3 linked regions of the Homo sapiens genome follow. The protein of the gene in region 3 purifies or fractionates together with the protein of the main gene of each other region. This does not show direct contact. Each region holds a gene or a part of one and is shown on either strand. Other genes may lie near its edges. The genes, in order: UBR3, SYT1 and RBM18.

Region 1 (3,656 bases), on a different chromosome or scaffold from region 3:
AGGATCTGACCACTAAGAGAGACCACTAATTAACAAAAATAACAATCTTACCTCATTTTCAACCTTCTAATTTTGTCAGTAGATTTATTACATTCTAGGCTATTACTAATTCAAACTTAATGAATGGTCATCTGAATTATATGTTACTGAATGTCCTTTCTCCCACGGAAACAAATTTTGTGTTAGTTCTTTATAACTCCAATTTAGGAATTCTCCTAAATTCTTAATCTACCATAAGCTTTTGCATATATTAATATAAATTTTTTATAACAAACTTTTTTTTTTGAGATGGAGTCTCATTCTGTCGCCAGGCTGGAGTGCAGCAGCGCGATCTCAGCTCACTGCAACCTCTGTCTCCCAGGTTCAAGCAATTCTCCTGCCTCAGCCTCCCTAGTAGCTGGGACTACAGGCACACGCCACCACGCCCAGCTAATTTTTATGTTTTTAGTAGAGACGAGGTTTCACCATGTTGGCCAGGATGGTCTTGATCTCCTGACCTTGTGATCCACTCACCTCGGCCTCCCAACAAACTTTTAATTACATCAGAGATGTAGTGTAACTATATATGTGACTAAAATTGCTCCTTATACAGGTACCAACGGATGACCTCCTAACTAACAAATCAAATAGGATGGCCAATCTTATTGAACTCCTGTAGCACTTAACAATTTTGATAAGTTTCTTGCTTTCTGAACTTCCTCTTGTGACTTCTCTAATGCCACTCACCCCAGTTTTTCTCTTACTCTGCTCAGCCATCCCTTCGTCAGTCACCTTTGTAGGTACCCCTTCCTCAGTCATTCCCTTTAATGTTTTTCCCTTAAGTTCTACATTCAGTCTTCTCATTTTCTTACTGTAAACCTTCTCCCATATACAAGGATTTACTACTACCTAGCTGCTCAAATCTGTAGCTCTAAGAATTCTCCCTTAAGTTTTAAACCCTATATCTGACTGGACACCTTCACCTGGGTGTCCCTCTTAAACTTAGTAGCGTCCAGAACTGAACAGATCACTTTTACTAATGAGCCTGGGACCCCTCCTACACTCCATTATCTTGGTAAAAGGAACATTATTCAAGTCAGAAATCAGGGCACCATTCAAGACATCTCCCTCATTTCTCACATCAACCTGATGACTGAGTCTAACAACTTGTACCTGCTAAATATCTCATACACATCTCCTCCTCTCTTTATTATCATCACTGTCTTAGTTCAGACCCTTACCACACCTGCCCCACTAGATGACTAAGTAGCTTGCTCTCCCAATTTCCAGTCTTACCCCACTCTAATCTACCCTCATGTAATTACCCTATATATTATTCCTCACTTAAAATCCTTCCACAGTTTCCCTGTAACCATTTATACCCTGTGCGAGTTAACGATACATGGTTACCTTCTTAGCCTTATGTCCTACTACTCCCATTAACACCCTGTGTACCTAAGATAGTATCTGTTACACTATGTTAACACTACTAACAAACTATCTGTTTACCAGTCTGTCTCTCCATTATAGTATCAATTCCTCGAGGTCAGGAAGTCCAACACCAGACACAGATATGTCTAGAAAACTGCTTGACTGACACCCAATGAATGAGAAACGGATCAATCAAGTAAGATCCATCTTAGGCTTGCTTCCACTGATCATTTAACCCATAACTGCCTATATTTAATTTTAAAAGTAACTAAGAAGATGAAATTATCCAGAAAATACCTCTAAAGTACACTTCAAACTGCTAAATAATGTATTAGTCATACTGCTCACAACAGTAGTCCAGATAACTCTGTTGACAATGATTTTTACCTATATAAAACAGATTGAGATGATAAAGGTCCTAGGTTCTTAAATTAAGATAATATTGATGTGATCTCTTTGGACCCTCCCTAACGGGAAATGTGTACCCTTCCCCTATAATTGTTGCTTTGGTAGACAAATTTGTCTTAAATAATAAAGAAATTAAAACAATGAATATTATTTATAACCTCAGAGAAGTGAGCAATGACTATCTTGAATTTGATCTGAAATCTTTTTTTTAAATGTCCTGGGTCTTTTAGCCTGTGTACACTCATTAGAAGGCATGCTCTTTTTTTTTTTCTTTAATAAACACTGAACCCTTTCCAAGAGTTTGACAATTATGCAGAGTTTCAATCTCTCAAGATTCACCTTGTCATGTTTATGACAGCAGGGTCAGCAATGTTGACAAGGCTCTTGGGAAACAATTTGTGACAATGCACAGTAACACAACTCTTCTGGCAAACAATGTACCACTAAAAAAAAGAACCAAACCATGCTCATAGTCCTTGACCCACAAACCCCACATAACATAGTATATATCTTGAGATTTTAAAAAAATCCCATTTTTTTTTCAAGAAAGTCAAAAGATGAAAAAAAAGTTTATAAATATAATTTAACAACAAATTATAAGCAACCTAAAGATCCAAAAGCTAGAAGCATAAGTTAGTCAGAATGTGTTTTAAAACATCACTTTTTAAAAATCAGCAATCATATATTAATAAAGATTAGAAAAGACCAAAAGAAACTAAAGCAGTTGGATTTTTATTTTGAGAAATATTTTAAATATTTTTAATATTCTCATTTAAAGCTGAACAGTTCAACTTTAACAGTAAGAGAATTATTAGATCCCTACAGCAATAAAAGCAGTAGCAATTTTTCCAAAGAGACACACAGGTTTAAGGTAGTAATTTTACATTGGGGTCAGAAAGTCTCACCTGTCCATCAATAAACTCAATACATCACATGTACAAGCACTGACTATGCTCCATTCCATTTATGTTACAAACTAATCAGCTATGACTGTTCCTGTTAAACATCCAGGTGATTATCCTCAAATGACCAAAAGGAAGAAAATATCAAATTTTCAACTATACACACGTTTAAAACATTAAAAATAAAAATTACCTTTCTTCTTTGTCCAATGTTTTCTTCTCTGCTGCAGTGACTTTTTTAGGTGGTACAGGAGGGGTCACTTTTCTACATATCTCTTCAATGATGCGTTTGTTCATTCTACTTTGCGATGCAGCTTTTAGTAAAATTCTTTCCACGGCAGTTATACCATCTCCATGACTGTATTTAGGAATTTCTGGTTGGATTAAAATTTCTATGTCATCAAGCCAAGGAGGATAGTAGGAGTTTTGTTTTCCTGAGAGTTTGTGGTGAAGTTTAATTAGCAAAGACAATATGCTTTCTTTAATTTCCAAAATGGCTGTAGTTAACTGTGGAGCTGAACCAGGAGCAGACCATTTACTTGAAGTTTTGGGACGAACCACCTGATTTGCTTCACTGCTACTGCGATTGATGATTTCCTGAAATTTCTTTCTACGTTCTGCTACTAAACTGAAAACTTGAGCTGTACCAGAATTCTACCATTAACAAAGAGAAACAAAGAAAAATCAAGAGAAGTTATTTAGCATCATTTTAAAAACATATTAGTACTATATTTTCTAAAGGGAATGCTCAGTTTCATACAAAGATTTATTCAATAGATTTGCTCTTTAAATAAATTTCTCCCTTGACCTCTCTCTCAAATATATTTAATCCCACTCAATCTAGAAACAGTAATAAGGAGGAGATCATCAGCAGTAACATCTCCTTTTCAACCTTCTGAAAACAGACAAAGCTTAAGTAGTATCTACAGCCATATT
Region 2 (3,656 bases), on a different chromosome or scaffold from region 3:
GACAATTTGTTTTTCTACAAAATCTCTGGATATTATGAAACATCACACACGAGCTTGCTTTTAGGATAGATTATTAATAATGTATTTTTCAGACACAATTGTATGTGAGAGTTTCTGCAAGTATAAACAATAAGATAACATTACAGCAGCAGGCAACACTCACTAAAATATCAATTTTGAATTGTCTGCTCTCTCTTTGAGAAGGAGAAAGAGCTAACTGAGTATCTTTTTCCCTCATGATGTACTTACTGGTCTCCAATATCCTATGCCATACAAACAGTGGACATGGTCCTTGCTTAGCTCCTATGAAATACGGAAACTGCCTACCTGCTTATTTTTGAGGGAAAAAAAACTTTTCTAGAAAGATTTTTAGACAAATGATTTATTGGCCTTTGAAGCAAGGACAAGTGCTATAACAACTCATTAAGGGACAGTTGAGCTCTAGCAATCAGGTTTTGAGTTATCAAGATTATTAGGAAGAAAAGTTGACACAGTTTCTCAGGAAAAAGACAAGGAAGCAAAGCATTGAAATCTGTTTCTGACTTGGAGTGTCTGCCAGATCCTAGTTTACAAGGCTGGCTTTCTGCCTAATCCCTAGCATTTTCATCAGATTTGAAGACTGAATAAAGTGAACTATTGGGCATTAGAGCATATTTCTAGAGCACCGAGACCTCTTCTATAAATAGCATAACATCACTCTTCTATTTTAACCAATGTTCAGAATCCGAGGCCACAAGTTTTTATATTTAAATATGTATAAACCAGATCATTCTATGCCTGAAAGTACTAGGGTTTTATCTGTCTGTGTACAGGAAATTCTTCTGTTAAAAGCTTAGTTAACAATATGACATTACAAATAATGTACCTATTTTTAGTGGTTTTATTAAATTATAATGTTAAATTTAAAAAGCCAAGCATTCACCTTGAGCTACATCTGAGCCTGATAATTCAAAAAGTGACATTTCAGTACAAAGCCAACATACCCTTAAATTGACAAAACTGCCCTGCTTTTAAATTGTTTTGTAAAAAAGTACTTGATATGCAAGTTTCCAACGACTTGTTTTTTTTCTGGAGAATCTTAGATACTTTCTGAACCACTCTTAGACAACACAGAATGAATATTAATGACAGGAGAGAGCTGACTCCTTCAGGCAAAAGTGGATGAGACAAGTTCTTTTATGCCTTTGAGAATCTGTTTCATCATTTATATATTGAACACATAGCAACAGTTTTATTTCTCTTGATTTCTGGACTTTTAGACCTGTATGCATCGAAGCATATTACACCTCACAGCCTGAATAGGAAAGATTTGTTCAGTTCTCTGGTTATAAGAATGATATAGGAATTCCTTTGTGTTCTCTTCCTTTCTGTACATTTTATTCCTTTCTCATGTCTTCTCTTCCTACTCTGCCCTTCTTCCTTCTTTTCTTCATTCTTTTGTCTTTCCTTTCTTTTTTTGTATCTTAATTAAATATTTTCCTATAGAATCACTAAATGAAGGTTTAGTACTTTTGACCCATAGTAATCTTCACCAGCTGAATTAATTTGTGTCAACAACTAAGAAATGTAATTCTTAGTTTGTATACATTTTAGGTTAGCTTCACAAAATATATGTATAGATAAATAAAGGAGCAGCCTTTTAATTTGTTTATGTAATTGGCACACTTAAATGGAATGTGTCATCATATGAATGTTTTTAAAATTTTGCATGTAAAGGGCTTGCGGATAATTTTTAAACCGTAACTTTTTGCAGAGAGACAGAATAATGTTTTAGAGTCCAAAAAACTGGCATGTACTATTTGGCATGTTTTTCTTTATTTTCTATTTTGCCATTGCAATGGTAACAAGTTACTGTGTTCATGACAGGCGTGCAGCACTGTATTTTTATTTGTTTATTTATTTTATTGCCTTGTTTGATGTTGATAATGAAGAGGTTCTCTCTCTTAAAGATGCAATGAAGGAGACTCAAGTGTTGTTACTTGCCTGCAATTACACATTTAGAAAGCCTCTTATATTTTTTGTCTGTTGGAACTTACTGCCTCAGCACTTAATAAAGCAGGAAAAAGCATGTTTTGTAATTCTCTTACTATGTAAGAACTAGTTTGCTTTTGCTTATCTAACATCATTATTGAGTATAAGATACATAGTCTTTATTTATCCCACTGAAAAAATAAGAAAGATTTGATATACCATTATTTCTTCTGTGACTCTAATTGCAAAATAAATTGAGTTTGTGTTTTAAAATTATTCAAGGGACATTTTTGTAATCTACAAGAAAAGTCACTAAGCTTGAGTCACTAGGCTAAGTTGGCCTTTAGTCATTGCTATATCACTGTGATGTTAGATAAGTCACCTTATTTGTTTTCTTATTTGTAAACTCCATAGTTCCAAGCCACCAAGTAGGGTGCAATGAGAAGTGATTGTAATCATAAGTGTTGTAGCTTTATCACTAACTCTCCAAACTTATCTCTTATTATTCTCCTCATTGATATTCATACACACCTTCTTGCTGTTCCTTCACATAACATTAGTGGAAGTTGTTGAATCTATTGATACTTTTTATCTTCTATTCCAAGGTAGAATGGTTAAACATTCTGCTCTAAGTGAACATATCCAAACCACAATTATTATTCAATTCAAATATGAAGTCTATCAGTTGGCAATTCTTTGTGTTAAGAAACACATTTGCGAGCAATAGCTAATAGCCATACCATTGCAATGTGGAATAATATAAGTGTGTTTGTAGCTAATCTGATTTAAGAAAACAGGAATTTTAGTTGGGAAGGGCCTATAGAAAGAATACAAAATTATATGAAACATAGGATAGGTATTAAGGGAGATATTTGAATGAATACAGGTATTCATATTGTTTCTTACAATATGTCAGGCACTTTTCTATGTACTTTCCATGCTTCATCCCATTTAATATTCTCAATAACTCCTTGGGATTTGTGCTAATTTGTTTATAATTTTTAAGTGAGAAAGTAGTGGAAAAAGAATAACTGAGCAACTTCCCAGGGTCACATTATGTAGTAAGATGTAGAATTAAACCCAAGCTACCTATTTACAGAGCCAATACTCAATCATAGGTAGTCACACAATCAATAAACTCATAAATGTCAGAAGAAGAGAATAGATGGTGGCAAAGAGGTAGAGGTACCCAAAAGAGATTAAATAGTGATAGGCAAATTGATCCACTTTATAGGTTAGGTCAATATGAGCATGATGGCAATAGGATAAAAGTATGAAACTTAGAGAGCTGGATTCAGATAGCCAACTCTGGAATGGTGAACTTCAATAAGATAGTTCCCCAGGAATGAAAATGCAATAATGTTTGCAAATTGTCTGGTGCCCTGTTACTATATGGTAGATTTGACCACCTTTGCTCCTCTTTCTCTTTTTTTATTTTCAGAAATTCTTTCACTTGTAAAAATGCCACCTGACTCAAAATGCTTAAGCAAGAAAAGGGATTTTGGTGCTCATGTGACCATAAAGTTCATGAATATTCTGGCTTCAGTCATAGGTGGAAATGGGAGCTCACACCATGTGGTCAGAACCAAGCCTATTCTCCTTCCTACCACTGTACCACTAGTACTCAATAATTTAACGACTGGTATGATTATACCAGTGTGAAAAGTCTACCTATAAGAGGATAT
Region 3 (3,656 bases):
AATTATTAATATAACGTTAACTATGCAATGTTCTTACATATGATGAATAAATTTATAAGTACTATGCGGCATCTCTACATTTAGTAACAATCAAATTCAATTTCTTTATCAATGCACTTCCACTTCAAGGACTAAATTTTAATACAAGGAGATCCATGTATATATCATGGTTGAAGGTGAATGCGCTCTTCTACATACATTAAAATTTATATGCATTTGTTCTGAGACCTTGAGAAGAAATAACAAAAGAGTCTTTGTGGGTGTCTCATCACAGATAGGTTTCTGTACCACAGGACAAAACTACTGAAAGAAAAGAAGGCTTTGTCAGTTGGCCAGCCAGTAAAGCAACAAACAAAAGAGAATAGGGAGGGGGATGTACATGTGCTCGATGTGGGCATCCCAGTGCATTTGGTCAAAAATGTAGGTGAGTCAGTTGCCTTAAACTTTGGCCAAGGGACAGTGAATTGTGAAAGCCACTAATTCATTTGTTTATTGAGGATCCCTTATAGGACTCAGTGTAAGGCACACAGATGAATCAGACATGGCTCCTGCCTACAGGGAACTGCTATTCTAGTAGGCAAGAGACATGCACAAATAATTATGACAGAGCTTGATAAATATTATAAAATGGGGAGAAAGCTTAATTACCTGCTTAGTTTCAAAGTTAACAAAACAGTAGCCTCGAGGCTGTCCCTCCAAAGCACCTGACTTGTGGAAGAGGAAGTCAAACTGCTTTACCTTGCCAAACTTCTGGAGGAGCTTGAGGAGGTGGTATCTGTGGAGAAAGAAGAGTCCATGAGTATGCTCTGGGAATTCTGTTGGCCACTCAGCCTGAAGTGTGAGATAAAAGCAGGAGATAATTTACCCCAGGGATGAAATCTCTCGCCCCAGCCCCCTGCCTTCCTCTAAACTGCTATGTTAGTTTATTTGGCAAACAGAGTTGTTTGCCTCTATTTGGTATGGGAACTAGAATTGTCATGGCTATGCATCTGTCCAACACAAAAATACCAAACAAAAAAACCACACCTTACAAACAGCTGTCTGGCCTACAAGCACTATTTGTTTTTCTTTTGGAGAAAAGCTCAAAAATAGTGTTGATTTATTTATTTTTAATTCCTTGGCAATGAAATGGCATTTGTGAATAACTATAACTCCATCAGAAACACACACCCATTCTCCAAAAGACAAAGCCTATCCTATCTCAAAAATAAAGTAACAAACATATATGCATTCATGCAAACAAACAAACAAACAAACAGTCCTGGAAGATCTTCCTATTAGATTTTGTAGTTAATTCTTAGACCCAAATTGCACTTGTGAGAAACTCTGCCATTAATCAAACCACAGCTAGTGATACTTCCACAGCACTTGAGAGTTTCAATGACTGATGTGACTGAACATGAGGACAATGTGGAACAACTATGTGACTGAGGCCGGTTTCACAAAGGGCAGGGGAACCTGGCCAGTCCTATAAATCACCCAGCTATGGGTAACTAACCAACCTCAGTTGCCTTAAAACAGTTTATACTCTAGGGTACGGTCAAGTAAAGAATACAGATGGTCAAGGGAGAAATTTATTCCTGGCAGGATGTTCACTCCAAGCTATTGCTTACCACTACTCTGCCCTTCATCCTCTATTAAATTTCTTACTCCAAAACTTACTTGGTTTCTACAGAGCTTTTAAGTTATTCAAACAGATGTGGCCTTAACAGGTTGCTGCGGCCAATCTCAATTCCGACTTCCTGTCATCTGATGTGGGGGTGAGACAAACCAACAGCTCTCCCGTTTCCTTTCCCTTTGGCCTTCCTCCTGGCATCCTCCGTGCTATTCAAATGGAGTCAAGGCTTTCTCTAAACAATGCTGTCCCTGTGATACTAAAAAGGTATCAGCCCACATGCTAAATCTGTTATTACTGGGAATTCTACCCCACAGGGAGTCAGTAAAGTTGTCGTTATAGCCACATTTATATTCACATTGTTTTCTAAGAGAAACTCATCAAAATTTTATTCTTGAGCAAGAATTTCCTTTGGGAGGCAGAAAGATATGAAATGGACCATACACTATACTAAATTTGATACTAATGCACATCAACAAGCAAGTCCAATATCCTGGATCAAGTGTCTGACACAGTGGAACAAGAAAGACATAATACAGGTTTAGTACTGGGACAAATGCAAGGATCCCAAGGCATATTGTGGATATTAATCTGGTCTATTTTGAAAGGTAAAACCACCATGATCCCCTACTTTCTAACTTCCCAACTCCCATCAGGACACCTCAACCACTAGAGAGAATGTAGGAAGTGACTTCAGGGGAAACGAAGACACCTTAAGTGCAAATGTGTGGTTTTACTTGACTTTTTGAACAGGCTTACAGCAAGGGTGAGTCTCTCACACACAAAGATGGGCGAGAAGAGTCTCCCCCAGGGTCTTTAATTCACAGCTGTATCTTCAAATTACTAAGCCTATTCAAATCTTAACACCGTGCCAGTTGCCACAGAATGGGGAGTCAAACCTATTCTTAAAAAAAAAAAAAAAAAAATCTAGGCCAGGCGCAGTGGCTCACGCCTGTAATCTCAGCACTTTGGGAGGCCGAGGTGGGTGGATTGCCTGAGGTCAGGACTTCGAGACCAGCCTGACTAACATGGTGAAACCCTGTCTCTACTAAAAATACAAAAAAATTAGCCAAGCATGGTGGCGCATGCCCGTAGTCCCAGCTACTCAGGAGGCTGAGGCAAGAGAATCACTTGAATCCGGGAGGCAGAGGTTGCAGTGAACCGAGATCGCACCACTGCACTCCAGCCTGGGCGACAGAGCAAGATTCCGTCTCAAAAAAAAAAAAGAAAAAAAACCCACAAAAACACACACACACAAAAAAAACAAAAAAGACAATCTAAGGCTACTGTGGGCTGGTCATCTTTTCATTAGCTCCATTCTGCTTAGAAGCAGGAAGGTAACACGATTGGCATTTCCTAAGAAATGAATTTTAATTTACTCAGAAAAAAAAAAACACACACACCAACAAAAGATTACTCTTTGTAAAGCTAACAAACACATTCTGCCCAAGAAGTGTGACCTTAAGATTCCAGGAACATCTGCTTAGGTTTGTGTCTTTCAACTTCTCCAGGATTTCTTTTCTTGTTTGATAATTTCTTAAAATTATCGGAACACTGAAACAAAAGGAATGAAATGTTTACTATTTTGCTTCCTGGAGATGGGGACTGCAGGCTCTGATAGTGAAAAAAGCCTGAAGGATCTTGCTTTCACATCTGCAAGCACTTTTATCTGCTGCTGAAGTGCGGGAGAGCACACTACTCAGCAGAGGCTTGCTTCACTTAATGAAATGTGCGCCCTGCAGCCTTCAGGAGCTGGAAAATTAGCACACCAGCCCCACACACATATCTGCAACTTAATCAGTGTTTTCTGTAATTGGTCTTTAAGACAGCTTTTCTGCCTAATGGCACAGAAATAATTAATCTATACACATGTTAAAATAGATACCTACAATGTGTCTAGAGCCAAGCAGGCTTATGGGCTATGCAGATGAATAAAACTAGGTTCCTGCCTTCAAGAACCTCACATTCTAGTTAAGACAGAGAGAGATGTAATCAAACAATTACAAAACAATGGGATGCTTGTACACAGAGGGATGAATAC

What was found.
Region 1: the proteins of RBM18 (region 3) and UBR3 purify together in Homo sapiens (affinity purification with mass spectrometry; 3 studies listed by BioGRID and IntAct, with this or other methods). This does not show direct contact.
Region 2: the proteins of RBM18 (region 3) and SYT1 purify together in Homo sapiens (affinity purification with mass spectrometry; one large-scale study listed by BioGRID and IntAct). This does not show direct contact.

The regions. Positions count from the first base shown.
Region 1 is NC_000002.12:169,949,323-169,952,978, reverse strand, and holds part of UBR3 (E3 ubiquitin-protein ligase UBR3), read right to left. Parts: intron 3,375-3,656; coding exon 2,914-3,374; intron 1-2,913. UniProt on the Homo sapiens protein: E3 ubiquitin-protein ligase which is a component of the N-end rule pathway. Does not bind to proteins bearing specific N-terminal residues that are destabilizing according to the N-end rule, leading to their ubiquitination and subsequent degradation.
Region 2 is NC_000012.12:78,871,196-78,874,851, forward strand, and holds part of SYT1 (synaptotagmin-1), read left to right. Parts: intron 1-3,656. UniProt on the Homo sapiens protein: Calcium sensor that participates in triggering neurotransmitter release at the synapse. May have a regulatory role in the membrane interactions during trafficking of synaptic vesicles at the active zone of the synapse.
Region 3 is NC_000009.12:122,251,199-122,254,854, forward strand, and holds part of RBM18 (probable RNA-binding protein 18), read right to left. Parts: intron 3,170-3,656; exon of another isoform or gene 3,076-3,169; intron 776-3,075; coding exon 649-775; intron 1-648.